Linked DNA regions of Homo sapiens: region 1 is linked to region 2. The links come from fine-mapping of genetic effects on gene expression. A gene starts in region 2. The other region holds a variant in brackets. All regions are shown on one strand. Distances are between the middles of the regions.

Region 1 (8,677 bases), 26 kb after region 2:
TATTAAGTGAAAGGAAAGCCCTCAGCTGGGCGCAGTGGCTCACTCCTGTAATCCCAGCACTTTGGGAGGCCGAGGCAGGTGGATCACCTGAAGTCAGGAGTTTGAGACCAGGTCAGGAGTTCTGGCCAACATGGTGAAACCCCATCTCTACTAAAAATACAAAAATTACCTGGGCTTGGTGGCCGCGTCTGTAATCCCAGCTACTCAGGAGGCTGAGGCAGGAGAATTGCATGAGCCCAGGAGGCAGAGGTTGTAGTGAGCTGAGATTGCACCACTGCACTCCAGCCTGGGTGAAAGAGTGAGACTCCGTCACAAAAAAAAAAAAAAGAAAGAAAGAAAGAAAAGCTCTCAACAAAGAGAGGGATTCTCCAAGCAGGTTTCTCCCTCATTATTGAATACCAGGGGTACCACACATGAGCTGATGAGGCCAGGCTCCTCCCCTGCGTAAGGTGCGAATCCTAGTGACTCCGCCCCGTTCCCCCAGCACGCACACGAGGATGCCCAGGTAAACCATAGGTAGTATCGGAAAAGGCAACATTTGATTGGTTAAAAGGCATTATTCGGAAAGAATCAATTGGGAAAGGGCAGACAAACGGGCAGACGTTCTGCCCCTGGGTCGCTGGTTTCATCTGGGACCAGCAATCTGGTCTTTCAGACTTCAGGCTGTTCTGGGCTTGAAGGTGAGGTCTCACCGGGGACCCTTCCCTATCTGCCTAGGCATTTGTCTGCCTCCTGCTTGTATCATCATTTTCTTAATTGCCTGCAGTGACTTTATCAAGCCCCCTCCTGAGCTGCGTAATAATAATACTGTGTTAGGATTTTCAGTGTTATTACTCATCATCAGCCCGGACAGCCCAGAATTCCAGGCCTTCTTCCTGTTAAACGAACGGAGAGCAGAGCCTTTGAGCTCCACAGTTCACTATCTCTGTGTCAGCCTTAACCATCCCATTGGCCTGTTGGGGCTGAAGATAAATCCCCAGGCATTAAGCATATTCCAAAAGGGAATAACTCCTTTGTCTTTGGCTTTTTGAAGTGGGCTAGTTTTCAGGACATGTAGTTGTAGATCTCTCCTCACCAGCAAAGGAGGACTCAGCCAGGACATTTTCAATTTTCTCCTTTCTGCTGACAGGGTGGTGCCTTTTCAGTGAAGTCAGCTGAGCTGGTTGGACATTTGTGGGCCCTGTGTGCCTGCAGAGCCAAGCTCTCTGCAAGGCACAGGTGGTGGAGAGATAGAGACAAGCAGCTGCCCTCAGGGAGCCGCGTACCCCTTCGGCCCAGCCTTGTGAGTCAGAGATAAGAATGAGCAGCTCAGGACTCCACTGGACCCTCACAAGAGGTGCTGCCAAGGGAAGATTCCTGACTCTTTCCAAGGCCCCTCGCACACCTGTGGGGCTGGGCTTGCTGAAAAACTGGACTGTAGTTCTCTTACTGGATCCCCAGGAAGAGCTTTGGCCCCTAACATCTTCCACCCTGCATTCCCCAACACACACATAGACACACAGAAACGGGGAAGAAAATTGCCTCTGAACATGGCTTTGAAAATATGTCTCTAGGGATGCAGAGCATGAAAACATTTCCTCGCACTGGAAGAGAGAAATCAGCAGGCATCTATTAACGAATTTAACAATCTCCCAATTCATTATTTTATTTTATGTTGGTACAGATATTTACAGAGCAGTTTAAATAAAGAAAACATTCACCAGTATGTAGCCTTTATACACTTGAAATTAAGTGGCCTGCAGTTATTCCTGTTGTTTGGCTGCTGCTTGCTAGAGGTGGTACTGGATGGAAAGGGGTTGTTTTGCTCCTTCCTCTCGTTGTAGTCACCAGAGAAGATGTGATCAGAGAGATCATAAGGATGTGAGAAAATATACAATGTGTATGAATAACGCCCATTAAAATTTCTTATGTCTTACGGATGGATGTGGGGGGTAATGGCTGGTTCTACTAAAATGCTGTGTTTTCACATTTGGGGAAGATTCTGGCATTTGACAACTTATCAGCTTTTTTGGACAGTATTGTTGCAAATTGGCATTCAAATCCTATGCTGTCCTCACTATTCTGCAAAGAGTTAAGGGCTGAAAATGCCCTTAAGTCTTCCCAGAGTGGAGATGCTGGGAGCAGAGGTTGTGGTGAAAGGAGAGGCAGGCCGTTCTTAGCAGGCTTCTCTCTCTAAGGCCTGTGCATTCGCCTTTTGGCACTTGGCCTAGTGGCTGTTGGTGTGGCTAGAAGAGGAGTGGGCAGTGAGCTTGTCTTTGTTGGGGGTGGCTGCAGAGCCACTCCTGGCTGCCGGTTACCGGCTGCCTCCTGAGCATGAGCCCTGGCTCATCTGGAGCCTCTTTAAAGGTAGAAAATGTTTGCCCCAGTGCCAGTCAGCACCAGGCCTGATCTTCACCTTCCTGACTTAGTTAAGGTGCAAAGTCTGCCTTCTAAATAGTGACTGCAGGCTAGGGAGTCACTTCAGGATCAGAAGGAGTTAAAAGAATGTGGCTAACTTGTTTGTGTGGATGTTCATTTTCTGAGCACCTCCACACACATTACCTCTTATGATCTTCATATAACAACCCTTCAAGTTCGGCAAGGTAGCAGGTGCTCTTCCTGTTTACAGATGCTGAAACTGAGTCCTAGAAGCAGAGCCAGGCCTGGAGCCCAGGGCTGCTTCCCCCTTCCCAAAGCTGCCCCTCCCCATTCCCCTGTGCACAGGCACTGGCCCTGAGTTTTCACAAAGCCTGGTTATTTATTCACAGGGGAGTCCTCAGCACTGCCTCTTCTATTTCCCTGTGGAAACCTCAAAAGAGAAATCCTGCCAAAAGCGCTCAAGGACAAAGGCGAGTAGAATGCTTTGACTGCATCCCTTACCACTTTGGGATCCACCAGGAGCCTTTGCAGTGATAGAAGTGGGTGGCCCTGCAGAGAGCACACAAGGGAGAGCAGGGCTGGGTTGGATAAGCCAGGCCAGGAGACACAGAGACCATGCTCATGGGAAGAGTGGACGTGCAGTCTGCACTTTCCTTTCTTTGGATCCACTCTTCCCAGCTTGTTAGCTCAAGCTAGGAGCACACAGTGTGTCTCCAGTCCTTCACCAAGAGGACAGGAGATCGAGATGTGGAGGTGGCCCCTGGGCAGATAACTGAGGTGACAAACCATAGAATTGGTTCCACATGTAGAAGAAAGTCTACAAATGTAGCCGATCTTATAATAGCATGCAGCACCCTCCAGCCGAGCCACACAAGCTCCACCTGCCCCTCCAGCTCCACCTGCCGTGGCTCCCAAGACTGTCAGCACCTAGAAACCAGTTCTTGCCTCTGAAGCATGCTGCCGTCCTCGATGCAGATGTCTTAGCTGTCACCTGCGCACCTTTTGCTGTCACATAGTTAGTCTGGGAGCAAAGTCTATCAGTGGTTTGGAGTACCAGCTTTCGGATGAGATAAAAACAGATTTGAATTCTCCCTCTTGCTGTTTATTAGCTATGTGAATGAAGGTAAGTGATGTAATCTCTCTGTGCATCAGTATCCTTATCTGTGAAATATGGTTATCTGTACATAACCATGGTACCTGCCTCATAGAGGTGTTCAGAGATCATGTAGCATGACACCTTGTTCTCCAAAGGCAAGCTCTCCATGGAACTATGACTGTTACTGTCTCTCCCAGGGTTTTGAAGCTCTAATAGTCCACATGAGCAGTGTGACCCAGGATGACCTTAGACCTTGTAACTTTCCCCCCGTATTAAAATGGAGCTAGATCGTATCCCTTCTACCCATATCATCTGTCTTCTAAAGCTACCAGGAATAAAGGCAGAGGACATTAGGTAATAAGATCAGCAAAATCATTAGCTTTTCGGGAACAAGAAAATACCAGGATAAAATAAGAGAAAGCTTGGTCTCAGTTACCCTTAAAGAAATAATATATAAATCAGAGGTTTGATACTTCAGTTTATTTCTTTAGTTTTCAGGGATATGAAATGGCAATAGGTTGCTGTTTTATGCTGAAGTTATCATTTCTTCTGAGAGAGTTTCCCATTTTATTTTCAGAAGCCTGAGTTTTCACTACTTTTCACCTACCATCTGGCTGCCCCTCATAAGTCAATATCTGACTGAAATTGCGTGAGTCCCTTCAGTGCCTAGC[G/A]CCTCATCACCAGCCCTGAAAACCCCTGGGAATATTCAGAGTCGCTGAATGGCACAGGGAGGAATGTGGGAAAGTCCACGGCTTAATCAGTTCTTGTACAAGTGGACACACTGAGGCCCAGAGAGGGGACGCGTGGCCATGTGGAGGCACAGCTGGAGTGCAGCCGGGGATCTGGACTCCAGGCCTCTCCCAAGAGCTGCCCTTCCTACACTTGCTGGTGTCATGCAACCAGTCTGTGTGGGATCCATGGAGTGACTAGGGACGGCCTTGTGTGGACAAACCTACATAAGCCTGGGAACAAAAGGCATTCTGGGTACAAATGAAGGCTTTGGTTTCTGGGCCTTTGTTCTTTTTCTGCCGTCTCAGCCTCCTCTTCCACCGGACCACTCCACAGCGTTTAGCAGGCTGCAGAGGACTGTTCAAGGCCTCTCTGCTGAGTCTGGCCTCTCAGCTTCCAAGCAGCTCGTTCCAGGAGGGTGGTGCTGTATTGGGAGGTTTCACCAACTGTGCTGTGAAGTGGTGGAGGCCCCATTGTGTGCCCAGTGCGGTAAAGTCTTTCCTGCTTTTGATTGTGCCCAGGGATTGCCATGGAAAGCATAACTGTGTATCAGACAGTTGCACACCCAGGAATCCAAGGGAACCTGAACAGCTACTATTCCCAGCAGGTACGTGGCGTTTGGGGGCGGTTCTGGCAGGGTGGGTGCCCAGGTGGGGAAGCAGAGGGTGAAGGGCACGAGCTGATAGATGTTGGTTCTATATGTGGTTTCACTGTCCCCAGCTGTCACCTGCATGCCTTTTCCTGTCACATAGTTGGTCTGGGATTCTAGAATTAGGAATGGAAACAATTTTGTGGTTGTTTCATGAAATGTCTATTGCAAGCTGGTTTGAAATCAGTGATTTCGGTAAGAGGTGCTTGTAGTAGGTGGTCTATGAAATCTCCCTCTTTGGAGAGATTAATGTGGTGACTTTGAGGAAGTGGTAAGTTTTTATAGGGGTTAAAGGAGATAATTTACGCAAAGCTTTTTGTACAGCATCGAAGATACATACAACCCTGAGGTAAATAGTGGCCTTGATGTTATCATTGCTATTCATCATACGGGGATGCTGGTGGAGCTGGAGGGGCAGACACTGGAGAGGGAGGCTGAGCCCATAGTGGGAAGAGCTGACAGTGGCCACCAAGGAGTCTGGATTGAATTTGGGAGTCCGTGGGGACTGTTGGAGGACTCAGGCAGGAGAATGGATAGCTCTTGCTTGAGTTCCTTGATGTCTTCAGCATTTATATGCAGTAAAACACCTCCCTTTCCTCTCCCAGGGCAAGCTTCTGAATGTCTTGCCTGGTATTGGGAGGGCCTGATAGGACAAACCAAATGCAAAAAGGCCAGGCAGGCTTGTCTGCTTGCTCTGCTTCCAGAGGGAGGGAGCATTGACAGGGAGCCAGCACTGCCTCACACCACTGCCTCATGTGATCAGTGCCGTATGACCACAGGAGCTAGAGGCATTGTCTAGGCTGCTGGGCACATGAGCTCCGGGATGCCCATGTCCTCTGGCCAGGCAGACACAGACCTGGGGCAGCACCAGCTTTCTGATGGCAGCCTGCTCTTTCCAACAGTTCCCTACCAGAATCCTGCCTCACTGGAGCAGAGGATGCCAGCATCAGCCGGGAACCACTCCTGTGCTAAAACCGCCTTGGTGGCCTGTGGCTTGAGGTCTTGATGCGGATGAAGCCGGAGGAATGTTGTCTCTCCTCAGTCTCATGGCAAGGACTGATCTTGTTTTCTGTTCCCCACAGGGGGTTCCAGCCAGCATCACATTTTTTAGTCCCTCTGGCCTCACATACAGTCTCAAGCACATTCAGGAGTTATCTGGTGACAATATCGATCAAATTAAGGTAAGTTATTCAATGAGCTTTTGGTCTTTTTCAGATTCTTTTTTTTTTTTTTAATCTTTATGAATTATCCTAGGGCTTCAATGTCAAGTGAGACACCCCTGGCCTAGCAGGTGCCTTAGAATTGGAAGGGCAGCTCTACCTCCTGCTGGGCTGTTGCACAGATTGCTCACCTTCTCCCAGCCCGTTTCCTCACTTGCAGCATGGGGATAATTGTCTCTCTGTGGCTTTCATAGACATGTGTATGGTCTTCCCTGCTTAGGATGAGTCTCAGGATTACATGAGGGAATTTGAGTAAAGTCCTGAATTAGCTCAGGGCTTGGTACAGGTGTTAACATCCTTTCCTTCCTTTCCCCCATCTTATGTTTGCCATTATTGTCTATTCTAAAAGCAGTCACCTTTTTCATATCTTTTAAAGGGTTTACATTCTCACTTACTAGGGACTGTATTTATTATGAGTCTACAAATAACCACAACTCTTGTGTCTGTAATAGAAACACCCTTGAACTGGCTCCAGAGGGACTGAGGAGAGGGTGCAGGATGTGACCCAGAGCCCAAGGACAGACACTGCCACTCACTGCAGTCAGGAAGAGCAAAAGGCTTCACCTGCCTTCTCACAGGTGCATCTCATGTGGGGAGTATGCACCGCTCTCCCAGTTTTAAAGATGGAGCACGGGGCTCAGAGACATCATATGGCCTGTCTGTAGGTCACACTGCTGAGAAGGAAGAGCTGCAGTTGAACCTGGGAAGACTGATTCCACATTGTCAGCCATGGTGATGCCTTGCCATGGTCTCAGGAGCTGCTGAGCAGTTGATGCACTTCTGGGCAGTAACTGATACAATTCTCACACCAGTCCAGTGGTGGGTATCCAGAAAAAGAGGTCAGTGTTCCTCATTACAGGTGAGGACACTGAGGGCTAGAGAGGTGAAACAACTTGCCAAAGTCATGTTTTGAGTTCCTAGAAGGCCCAGGACTCACACAGGTCACCGAGGAAGAAAAACAATATCTGAATCTTGTGGTTAGAAAGATTAGAGAGAGGCCGGGCGCTGTGGCTCCCACCTGGAATCCCAGCACTTTGGGAGGCCTCAGGCGGATCACCTGAGGTCAGGTGTTCCAGACCAGCCTGTCCAATATGATGAAAACCCCGTCTTTACTAAAAATATAAAAATTAGCTGGGCATGGTGGCATGCGCCTATAATCCCAGCTACATGGGAGGCTGAGACAGGAGAATCGCTTGAACCCTGGAGACTGAGGTTGCAGTGAGCCGAGATCGCGCCACGGCACTCCAGCCTGGGTGACAAGAGTGAAACTCCGTACCTGCCCCATAAAAGAAAAAAAGAAAGAAAAAGAAAAATTAAAGAGATAGGACCCATAAAGTGCTTAGCATGGCAACTGGTCCATATGACCAGCGCTTACGTCATATTGCAGGTCAGGATGGGTCACGGTGCTGGTCCTGCTCTGGTTCTTGTCCCTCTGTGCCCTGCTGCCTCTCCCCTGGGCCTGTAGGAGGAGTCCCCACCTCCACCCCACCCACCCACCCCCAAGTCACACAATGCTGTGAGATGCCTGGTGGTATAAGCCTAACACAGTTTTCCCCAAGCTTCTTAGTGTTTGCCTAGAGGAAGAACAAAAGATTTATACTCTATCTTCTTTCAAAGTGAGCATATTTAAAAGCACAAATGGATACTCAGCATCTGAACCAAGAACTCAGGCCTTTCTGAATAGACTGCTGCCTGCATTGTCCACACCCATGGCAGCTGGGGGCTGAGTGCGTGTTCCTATCCTGTATCTGTCACACCCATTTCTGCAGCCCTCCAGACACTCTGAGGAGCTCTCAGTAGCCCCCTCGCCTCTTACTACAGTGATTGATTACCCTGCCTGCCAGTAGTTAACACCTCTGCCATTGCTGAGGAGGAGAAAGTGACAGAGCTGGCCTTGCTCACAGTGACTATGGACTGCTTGGGGGCCACGAAGGCACTGTGTGTGGGTTGTGAGTTGTCCCTCGACACTGGGACTTGGCGCTGGATAGTGAGGTGCTTTCAAGGTTCACAGAGGACACAGTCCTAGCCCGTGAGTTGGTAGTTAGGCTTTTCTGTCTCAGCTCAGCCTCAGATTTGCTACTGTCCTCCCTCCCCAGGAGTCCCTGTAGGGCCCACTGTTTGTACAGCATTGCACAACATGCAGGCGCACCACAAAAGATCAAAGGGGGTGACTTCCGACCTGAACTTGCTACTTATCCATTGACTTGGGAAGACCACGCACTTGTCTATAAATGCCACAGAGATGTCACTGCAAAGCAGTAGGTAAGCAGATTCGTAATCACCACCACCACACTAATGGCAGCAGCTGAATTTCCTGTGTACAGCAAAATGCCCTTGCAGCCTGTGAGGTGGGTATCTTCACACCTAGTGCTCACTAGCCACAGTGGCAGAGCCAGGCTGTGAACGTGGCTGCTGCCCCCAAAGCCAGGCTGGTGCACTCACGTCCAGTTTGTGCCAGGGATGGAGAAAGAACGTTGATGCTGGGCCCCCTCGCCTGGCCTGGGGAAGACTGCTGCTCTGTGGGGCAGCATCATGTGAGCATTCATTGACACAGGAGTGAAAGGCTCCTGTGAAAAAGCTGCTGTTTCACCAAACTGTTGATACCCCTGCTCTAGGACTACAGTC
Region 2 (8,833 bases):
CATCAATTTTATAGCACCAAACAGCACAGTTATATGACTGTTACATAAGAATTGTGAATTAAAAAAAAAAACAAAATAACTCTAATTAGCAGATGAAAGGAAATAATTCTTCCTTCCAGGCAAGGTGGAGAGGATAGAAATGGAAATTCTAAAAAGATGAACTTGGGAGAGCCTGTATTGAATGACCTGAATTTTCTTTTTTTTTAGAGACAGAGGCTCACTCTGTTGCCCAGACTGGAGCTCAATGGCACATTCATAGCTGCAGCCTTGAGCTCTTAGACTCAAGTAATCCTCCAGCCTCAGCCTCCTGAGGAGTTAGGACTAACGGTGTGTGCTACCACAGTTGGCTAATTTTTAATTTTTTTGTAGAGACAGGTTCTCATTATGTTGCCCAGGCTGGTCTCAAACTCCTGGGCTCAAGCAATCCTCTCACCTCGGCCTTCCAAAATGCTGAGATTATAGGCATGAACCACTGCACCCGGCCCCTGATTTTTCTTAGAAGAGGAAATTTATGCATAATAAATAAAAGACAATACCTGCTGCAGTAATTTCTTAATTCCGTCATAATCATTATCTGATAGGGAATAAGCTTCAAATTCAATATTCACTTCCTGTAAATAACACACAAAATAGTTGTTACCAGAAAAACTACAAACATCTAGACTTTAAAACAGGCAAACATTGCCAAGATTGCCATCTGTGAAGAATACAAAGCACCTTCACACTATTTCTTCAGGTGACACAAAAGCCTGAGAAAACAAAACACTCAGAGTAACCTAGTTTAAATGTTGAGAAAGTCCAGTTCAAATAAACCAGACACGGCAGCCACAAAGGATAAATTATTTTCCTGATTACAAGGGTGGGCAAAAATCAAAATCACTTCAAAAGTCCCTGGAATTGCCTAGAGCTTGACTTAGCCCATGGATTTGAGGTTACACTACATTTGCTTAGCAAATATTTATTAAGTATCAATCCAGGTACCAAGCACTGTGCCAGGCACTCAAGATGAAAAGGTTAGTAAGGCAGACACAAATGATCCTGCTCTCGTGCAGCTTACGATTTAGGAAGGAATATAGGCATTAAGGAAATATTCATAGAAATAAATGTAAGTGCTATAAAACAAAGGTACACAATGTTGTAACAACTTAAAAAATAAGAAGTCAGTCAGGAAAGCCTTCCTTGAAGTGACATTTGAGCAAGAAACCGAGAAACAGCAAAGAGAGTTCCTGGTACAGGGAACAGCACAAACTAAGGCCCTAAGGCAGAAGGAAATACAATGAGTACAAGGGACTAGAAGAATGAATGTGTAGCTGGGCTCCCTGATCTCTATCTGCAAGACAACAGAATCTAGAAGATGGAACTAAAATGCCAAAAACAAAACCTAGTTGCTTTTAAACACTAACAAGATTAGTCCTTGAGGACCCTAAATCAGACCTTGATAAGTGACACAATGAACCTGGGGCTCTGATGAAATAATATATTTAAAGGCACTTCAGGTTTTAACGGTTTCAGAATTTAGGTCTTAGCTGAAGAACATCGCAGAGGAAATCAGACCTCCTTTTACCTTGCCACCCTGACTATGTATATATTTAAGTCTTCCTTAATTGTAAAATTGCAAGGCCCTGGAATTGCTTAGAGCAATTCCAGCTCCAATTTGAACTCTTTAAGTCCAGCTTTGCAGACTTCAAATGCTAACTTAGCCAGATTATGTGAGCAGCAAAACACAAGGGGTCGGGTGGGAGTGTTCCAAACAGGATCAAACTAAACCAAATAACAAACTGTCATTATTCAGGACTTAAACTTATTCCTTAGATATAAATACATTCTGTAAATAATGCTCATCTAGTGTTTTTTTCTTTGTCTAGACAGACATCTCGGACCTCTGTCCCAGACTATTATGGCACCACCAGGGAAATGGGCGGCAAATGGATTATCTGTCCAGCACCCTTTTCCTGGGTATGGGCTCATCTCCACATGGCTTCAGCAGGAACAGTCACGTTTGTAGAAAAGAGCCCTGTCCCTCATTCCCAGGTGATTTAGAATTAAGACTGTGGTGGTGTGATAGATTTCCCATGTTAACACAAGCAGCATTGATTTCTATAACCCAAAAGTAATAAAAGAGCCAGTCAAAGTTCTAAGTGAAAAATGGTGAGATGGCATTCAAGGCATAGAGCCAAAGTAAAATTTGTAAGGGAAGGAAGATTGATCACATACCCACACCATGGTGTCACCTCTAATCCTGCATCCATGCTTCTCTCCATGCTCCCCTCCATGCTCATCATGACTCATGATTACCTCTCTGATTTTATTTCCTATCACTCTCTCTTCCTTATTCTGATCCAGCCATCTAGGCTGCCTTTCCGTCCCTCAATTGTGAAGACTCTTGATTTTCTTGTAAATGAACTAGAAAGCCAATGCAGCAATCTAAGCAGAGGCCTGAGATCAGACCTATAAGATCTCTCTGACTGTAAGTGGAGTATAGACTGATTGTAGGGGAACAAAAATGGAGAAAAGAACGCCGGTTAAAAGCTGTTACATTAAATAGTAGTCCAGGCAAGAGATGATAGAGGTGTGGACTACGATGGTCTCAGAATTAGTGCTGAGAAATGTCTGGATAACAGGATTTACTGATGGGCTGGATATAGGATGAGGAAAGGGAGGAATTAAAGTTAAGCCCCAGGTTTTGGGTTAGAGCAGCTGGTGACTTTAGGGGCCATTTATAGAAATGGTGACGATTAAGAGAGGGGCATGAATTATTATACAAATTCTGCTTTGGACAAGTTAAGGCTGAGGTATCTATTTAAACATTCAGTAGGCTGAAGGATCATTCAGTCCTAATTGTTTACTAAACAAATAATAAGTACCTATATTGCCAGGCACTACGGTAGGACCTAGTCTGAAGAAAGGAACACAGTTCTATGAGACTATGAAACCAAAGATTTACCCACGACTTGGTCAGCTGCCCCAGGAGCCAGAAAATACAGCCTAGCTGAGATCTGAAGAAGGAAGGGAAAACTGCAGGATAAAGAAGAGCATTTGAAAAGGCTTCTACGGTAGAACGCGGCAAGAGCCTTCAAGAAACTGAGGGCCCAAGTGAGTGCCGCCCGCAGAGTGAAGAGGAGGACAGCTGCTGCCCCGAGGGGAGAGGGCCCCCTCTGCGAGCCCGGGGTGGCCGATTCAGGATCTGAGGCTTCAGCCTGAGAACTAAAGAGGACGAGAAGAACACACCTGTTGTGGCGGGCTTTTTCGGGGAGGACGCGGGTTGGGAGATTAACTGGACCGGACTAGACCTTTAAAAAATAACTACTATGGCTGCAGTGTGTTAAAGACCGAGGAGAAACCTGAGAAAGAACTTATCTCCAGTTTCTCCTCACAGACCCTCAGGGTCAGGGAAGACCCTACACTATTTTTACACAGCCTGGGCTTGCCAAAAAGTTTTTCTCAGGTATAAACCAACTAGGGGAGCGTGTCCTTCTCACCTCGTCAATGACCTCGTCCTCTTCATCCTTTTCCTTGTCACTGTCATCATCGTCTTCATCCTCATTTTCGACTTCTTTTTCCTCTTCCTCGTCGCGCTGGACTGGGGGATCCGGCGGCTGCGGAACCCCACTTTCCACGGCACGCCGCTTAGACCTGGACGCCATGTTGCCGCTCACACTGCGCCTGCGCAGCTTCCCCTTGCCTGACCTTCCGGACCAGCCCATAGTAGCCAAGGGGGTGAGGAACTACGAAGAAGCTCGGCGCTGAGTGCACGTCAACCCCAATGCCCCTGCTGGATTCCGCAGCCATGACCCCTTACAGTCACGTCCAGCTTGCGGTCCCATCTTGCTTTTTTCTTCCGCTTTCCACCCTCCATCACTCCTCCCAAAGCTTCCCCTCCCCTTCCCGTAGTGGTTCAACCCATCTAACCTCTGGCCTCATTCCGTGGCCTGGATGGCGGTGCGCATGCGCGAGCGCCTAGCTGCGCGCAGCCACCCACGCGACCCCAGTCTGAGGTGCGGGGTCCTGGGGCCCGGCGCGGGTGGCCGCCGCGGCCCCTCGGGCTGCGTGGGGAGGGGGCTTCCGCCCCTGTTGTCATTGCTCCTGCAGCCTTTTCGCTGGGACTGCGCGACACCGCCCCCCGACCGGGTGCCCGCTGTGTGCCAGGCCGGGTGCTGGGCACGGTCCCGCGAGGTAGGTGTCGCCGCCCGCTGTACCGGTACGGACGCCGAAGCCCGCGGGCGTGCAGGGGCCCGGCCCCGGGCGGTGTGTGACACAGTGGGGCCAGGGCCCCGAGGCTTCCGCGGACCTGGGCCTGCCCAGGCGGGGATGTCCGCTGCCGCTACCGCTGCGCCGGTGACGGAAGGCGCCTGCCCAGCCTACCCTCGCCGAGCTTCTGGAGCGCATTTCTTGACCTAAAAGTTTTTTTAAAGCCGGCACCGCAGTTAAAAATGCTTCGGCGGGGGGCCGGGCCCGGTGTCTCGCGCCTGTAATCCCAGCACTTAGGGAGGTCAAAGCGGGTGGATCACCAGAGGTCAGGAGTTCGAGACCAGCCTGGCCAACATGGCAAAACCTCATCTCTGCTAAAAGTACAAAAATTAGCCGGGCGTGGTGGCGGACACCTGTAATCCCAGCACTTTGGGAGGCCGAGATGGGTGGATCACTTGAGGTCAGGAGTTCGAGACCAGCCTGCCCAACATGGCGAAATCCCATCTCTACTAAAAATACAAAAACTAGCCAGGTGTGGTGGTGCGCGCCTGTAGTCCCAGCTACTCAGGAGGCTAAGGCAGGAGAATCGCATGCCCCCAGGAGACGGAGGTTGCAGTGAGCCGAGATCGCGCCACCGCACTCCACACTCCAGCCTGGGCGACAGAGGTAGACCCTATCTAAAAAAAAAAAAAAATGCTTCGGGGCCAGTGGGGTAGTCTAGGTTAAAGACCCGAGCCTATTTGGAGAGAAGAGTGGAGGGGACTGCGGCCAACTGCAGAGCGAGCGCCAGCCCCTGTGGCAGGTGGGGATGCAGCCTGGGGCAGCCAGGTCTTCCCATTGCGAGAGAAACAGGGTTCATCAGCTTTCTAGGAATAAGATCTGCGGTTCTCAATTGATTTTTCTCTGTAAAATGAGGGGGGTGGGTTGGATATGTTTGATTCTAGGAATGGTGTGAGCTGCGCTAATAGGCTGCTTCTGTTTAAGCAGGGTAACATCTGATAAATCAGTGATCCTTCATCAGTACGAGATGGCGTGCCCTAAAGGTCCCCAGGAGCCCAGATTGCCCATAATCGTGTTCTGTGATTTCGGTCTTTCCTGGGAGTCTCTTGTCTACCCAGCCATGTCATGGATATTAAAGTAATACTTACACATCAGCGCTCCACATCTGATGGGGCAGCTTGAAATGGCCTCTTTGGGTCGCACAACTGCAAAAACATGTTCCTGTAATGGAGAAGAGAGGAAGCTGTCAAAAAAGACCCATCAAAAGGCTAAGATTAGAAAAAAGACTCAGAAAGACCATGTGAACATATCAACAGAGTTGCACTGAGATACCATAGCCAATTTTTTTTCCTGTTTCTTTATACTTTTTTTATGGTGGTAAAAGATACATAACATACATTTTACCATCTTAACTATTTTTAAAGATACAGTTCAGTGGCATGAAGTGCATTCACATTGTGCAACCATCACCACCACTATCCATTGGCAGAACTCTTTTCATCTAGCAAAATTGAAACTGTAGTTAAACAACTCCCTTATTTTCCCTCCATGACCTTTCTACTTTCCATCTTTATTAATTTGACTATTCTAGAAACCTCATGTAAGTGGAGTAACACAATATTCTTCCTTTTGTGACTATTTCATTCAGCATGATGTCTTCAAAGTTTATCCCATGCTGTAGCATGCATTAGGATTTCCTTCCTTGTTAAGGCTGAATAATACTCCATTGCATGTATAGACCACATTTTGTTTATCTACTTATCTGTCGGTAAACATTTTGGTTACTTCTACATTTTAGCTGTTGTAAATAATGTTGCTATGAACATGAGTATCAAATATCTGTTCGAGTCCCTGCTTTCAATTCTTTGGGGTATATATGTAGCAGGGGAATTGCTAGATCATATGGTAATTCTATGTTTATTTTTTTGAGGAACTATACTTTTTTGTAGTTTGCAAATCTTTCACAGTAAACAGGATCACTTTTGTAAGACAAGTAGGGGAAAAAGCCTTACTTTATGCCCTCAGATTAGTTCCCAGTGTTGAGCTCATGGTCAAAGTGTGAATTAGAATAGTGAATGTGAAAGTAAATACAGTACTGACCCTAGGGAACTGAACTCAGCAGGTAGTAGATTGCTTACCACTCGTTCAGTGTTCATCTTTAGCTCAGAATTTATCTTAATGAGGCAGAGGGATGGTAGCAAGTGGTTAGGAGACTGAGCATGGGCTTCAGACCAGGATCCAAATTCCATCTCTCCCACTTACTGTGCTGTGTGACCTGGGACAAGTTACTCAAACCTCCCAGGGACTTGGTTTCACCTCCTGCAAATAAGGCTAACACCACCTACCTTGCAGGTTTAAGTGAGGATTGCAGTCTTGCATGTAAAATGCTTAGCCCAGTGTGATAGTTACTTTTACATGTCATCTTGACTGGATCACGGATGCCCAGATATCTGGTTAAACATTATTTCTTGGTGTGTCTGTGAAGTTGTTTTCAGAAAAGATGAGCATTTGAATGGATAGACTGAGTAAAGTGGATTGCCCTCCCCAAAGTAGGTGGGCAGCATCCAGTCTGTTGAGGGCCTAAATAGAACAAAAAGCCAAAGAAGGAAGAATGTGTCCTGTCTCCTCCTGCATGCTTGATCTGGGATATCTTCTGCCCTTGGTGCTCCTGGTGCTGAGGCCTTCACACTCAGGCTGGAACCTACACCCTTGGCTCTCAGGCCTTCAGGCTACAACACCAGCCTTCCTGCTAACAAGTCTCCAGCTTGCAGACAGCAGATCATGGGACTTCTCAGCCTCCATAACTGCATGAGCTAATACCTTATAACAAATCCCTTTCTAGATGTAAATATATGCCATTGGTTCTGTTTCTCTGAAGAACTCTAATACACCCAGTAATTAACATGAGTAAATGCTCAGTAAAAGGGTGACTGTTGTTATTGCTGATACCCAGAACACCATGACATAGAAGGTACGGGTTTGAGGTTTGGTTCTTTCTTACCAGTAAGGTGCCCTTATTCCAGTCATTTTTTTTTTCTTTTCTTTTTCATCAATGATTGATGAACATAAGTATGAGGGTAAAATGGCAGAGCAAGCATTAGACTGTAAATCTAGAGACAGGTTGAGCCCTCTTTTTACCAGTGCCGAGGTGAGTTTCATGTTGGAAGCTTCAGGAGCAGCTTCATTTCTGCTGGGGCTTCTCCCGCCTTTTTCCCCCTCAATGGGAAATAACAGGTTTCGTTATTTTCATTGGAAAAAAAGGCAGAGGAAACCCCAGACACTGCACGGTTTTTAGGCCCTAGCCTCACCAGTCTCAAGCCTCCTATCAAGGAGGGCCATATAGTGCCTCTGATCTGCTTGATGCAGACCCTAGGGTCCTTCCCACTCCCATGAGCCACCCACCAGAGTGAGCTAAGAAATCAACTGGCAGAGAGCAGAGTCACGTATGGCCAAGAGGAATTGTTCTGGGGGTTGTTTAGTAAGCAGGAGAGAGGGAGGAGAAGAAAAACTGCACAGGGATCAGATGCCTCCAGCAGAAGAAAGCGAGGCATAGAGATCCCTTACCATCTGAGTCACGTGGCACCAAATATGTTACCAGTGGCAAATCAGTAGACACCTGCAGCAACCTCAATCTTGTCTCCTCAGAAGAAAATTCAACTGGGGGCATAAGGCAGAAAAAGTGACCGAGGCAAGCTTCAGAGCAGGAGTGGAAGTTTATTTTAAAAAACTTTAGGCCGGGTGCAGTGGCTCACACCTGTAATCTCAACACTTTGGGAAGCCAAGGCAGCCGGATCACGAGGTTAAGAGATGGAGACCATCCTGGCCAACATGCTGAAACCCCATCTCTACTAAAATACAAAAATTAGCTGGGCATGGTGGCGCATGCCTGTAGTCCCAGCTACTCAGGAGGCTGAGGCAGGAGAATCGCTTGAACCCGGGAGGCGGAGGTTGCAGTGAGTTGAGATTGCACCACTGCACTCCAGCCTGGGCGACAGAGCAGGACTGCATCTCAAAAAACAACAACAAAAAACTTTAGAACAGGAAAGAAAGTAGAGTATGCTTGGGAGAGACCTAAGCAGGCAACTTGAAGGACAAGTGCTCCATTTTACTTTAAGGAAAATTAATCATTCTTTCTGTTTCAAAGATGCTGGGTAAAATTGAAATTGTTGTTTTCCCACAAGGTGAGCAAATAATGAGCATCTACTACAGGAAAGAAAGTCCATCAAAAAAGCCAACAATGGAGAGGCTCACAGCCCCTTTCCAATGTACAGGAATCTGAAACTGAGACTGAGGCAAGAGCAGCCTAGACCAGAACCCAGACACTGGCCCTCCTGTGCAAACACCCTCTACTCCACCAAGCCTCTTCCTAAAGCCCAAGGTGGCGACATGTTAACCTATCTGTGCACGCTTCTCAATTGATTTCTTTCCCAATCAGCCTGATAATATGTGACTCTAGCACAGCAAAGAATCATCAACAACAGAACCTTTTAATTTTATATTATTATTATTATTATTATTATTTAGACAAGATCCTTCTCTGTCACCCAGGCTGGAGTGCAGTGGCACGATTATAGCCCACAGCAACCTTGAACTCCTGGGCTCAAGTGATTCTCCCACCTCAGCCTCCTGCGTAGTTAGGACTACA

Evidence for each region. PIP is the estimated chance that this variant, and not a neighbour inherited with it, causes the effect.
Region 1: its variant is fine-mapped to the expression of UROS in whole blood (TOPMed, PIP 0.97).

Annotation. Positions count from the first base shown.
Region 1 is chr10:125,792,216-125,800,892 of GRCh38, reverse strand. UROS (uroporphyrinogen III synthase) reads left to right here. Exons shown (of 10, transcript NM_000375.3): 7 at 2,748-2,828; 8 at 4,705-4,790; 9 at 5,915-6,013. Among named protein-coding and RNA genes, the nearest start is that of MMP21, 21 kb to the right of the region's middle. The variant G/A (reference allele first, on the strand shown) is at 4,126.
Region 2 is chr10:125,818,369-125,827,201 of GRCh38, reverse strand. It overlaps UROS (uroporphyrinogen III synthase), which reads left to right and starts at 3,944. Exons shown (of 10, transcript NM_000375.3): 1 at 3,944-4,173. It overlaps BCCIP (BRCA2 and CDKN1A interacting protein), which reads right to left and starts at 3,656. Exons shown (of 7, transcript NM_078468.3): 1 at 3,480-3,656; 2 at 537-611. The coding sequence starts at 3,644. MIR4484 (microRNA 4484) reads right to left here and starts at 7,462; the gene lies at 7,380-7,462. RefSeq lists silencers at 2,892-3,111, 3,868-4,297 and enhancers at 3,588-3,787, 3,331-4,016.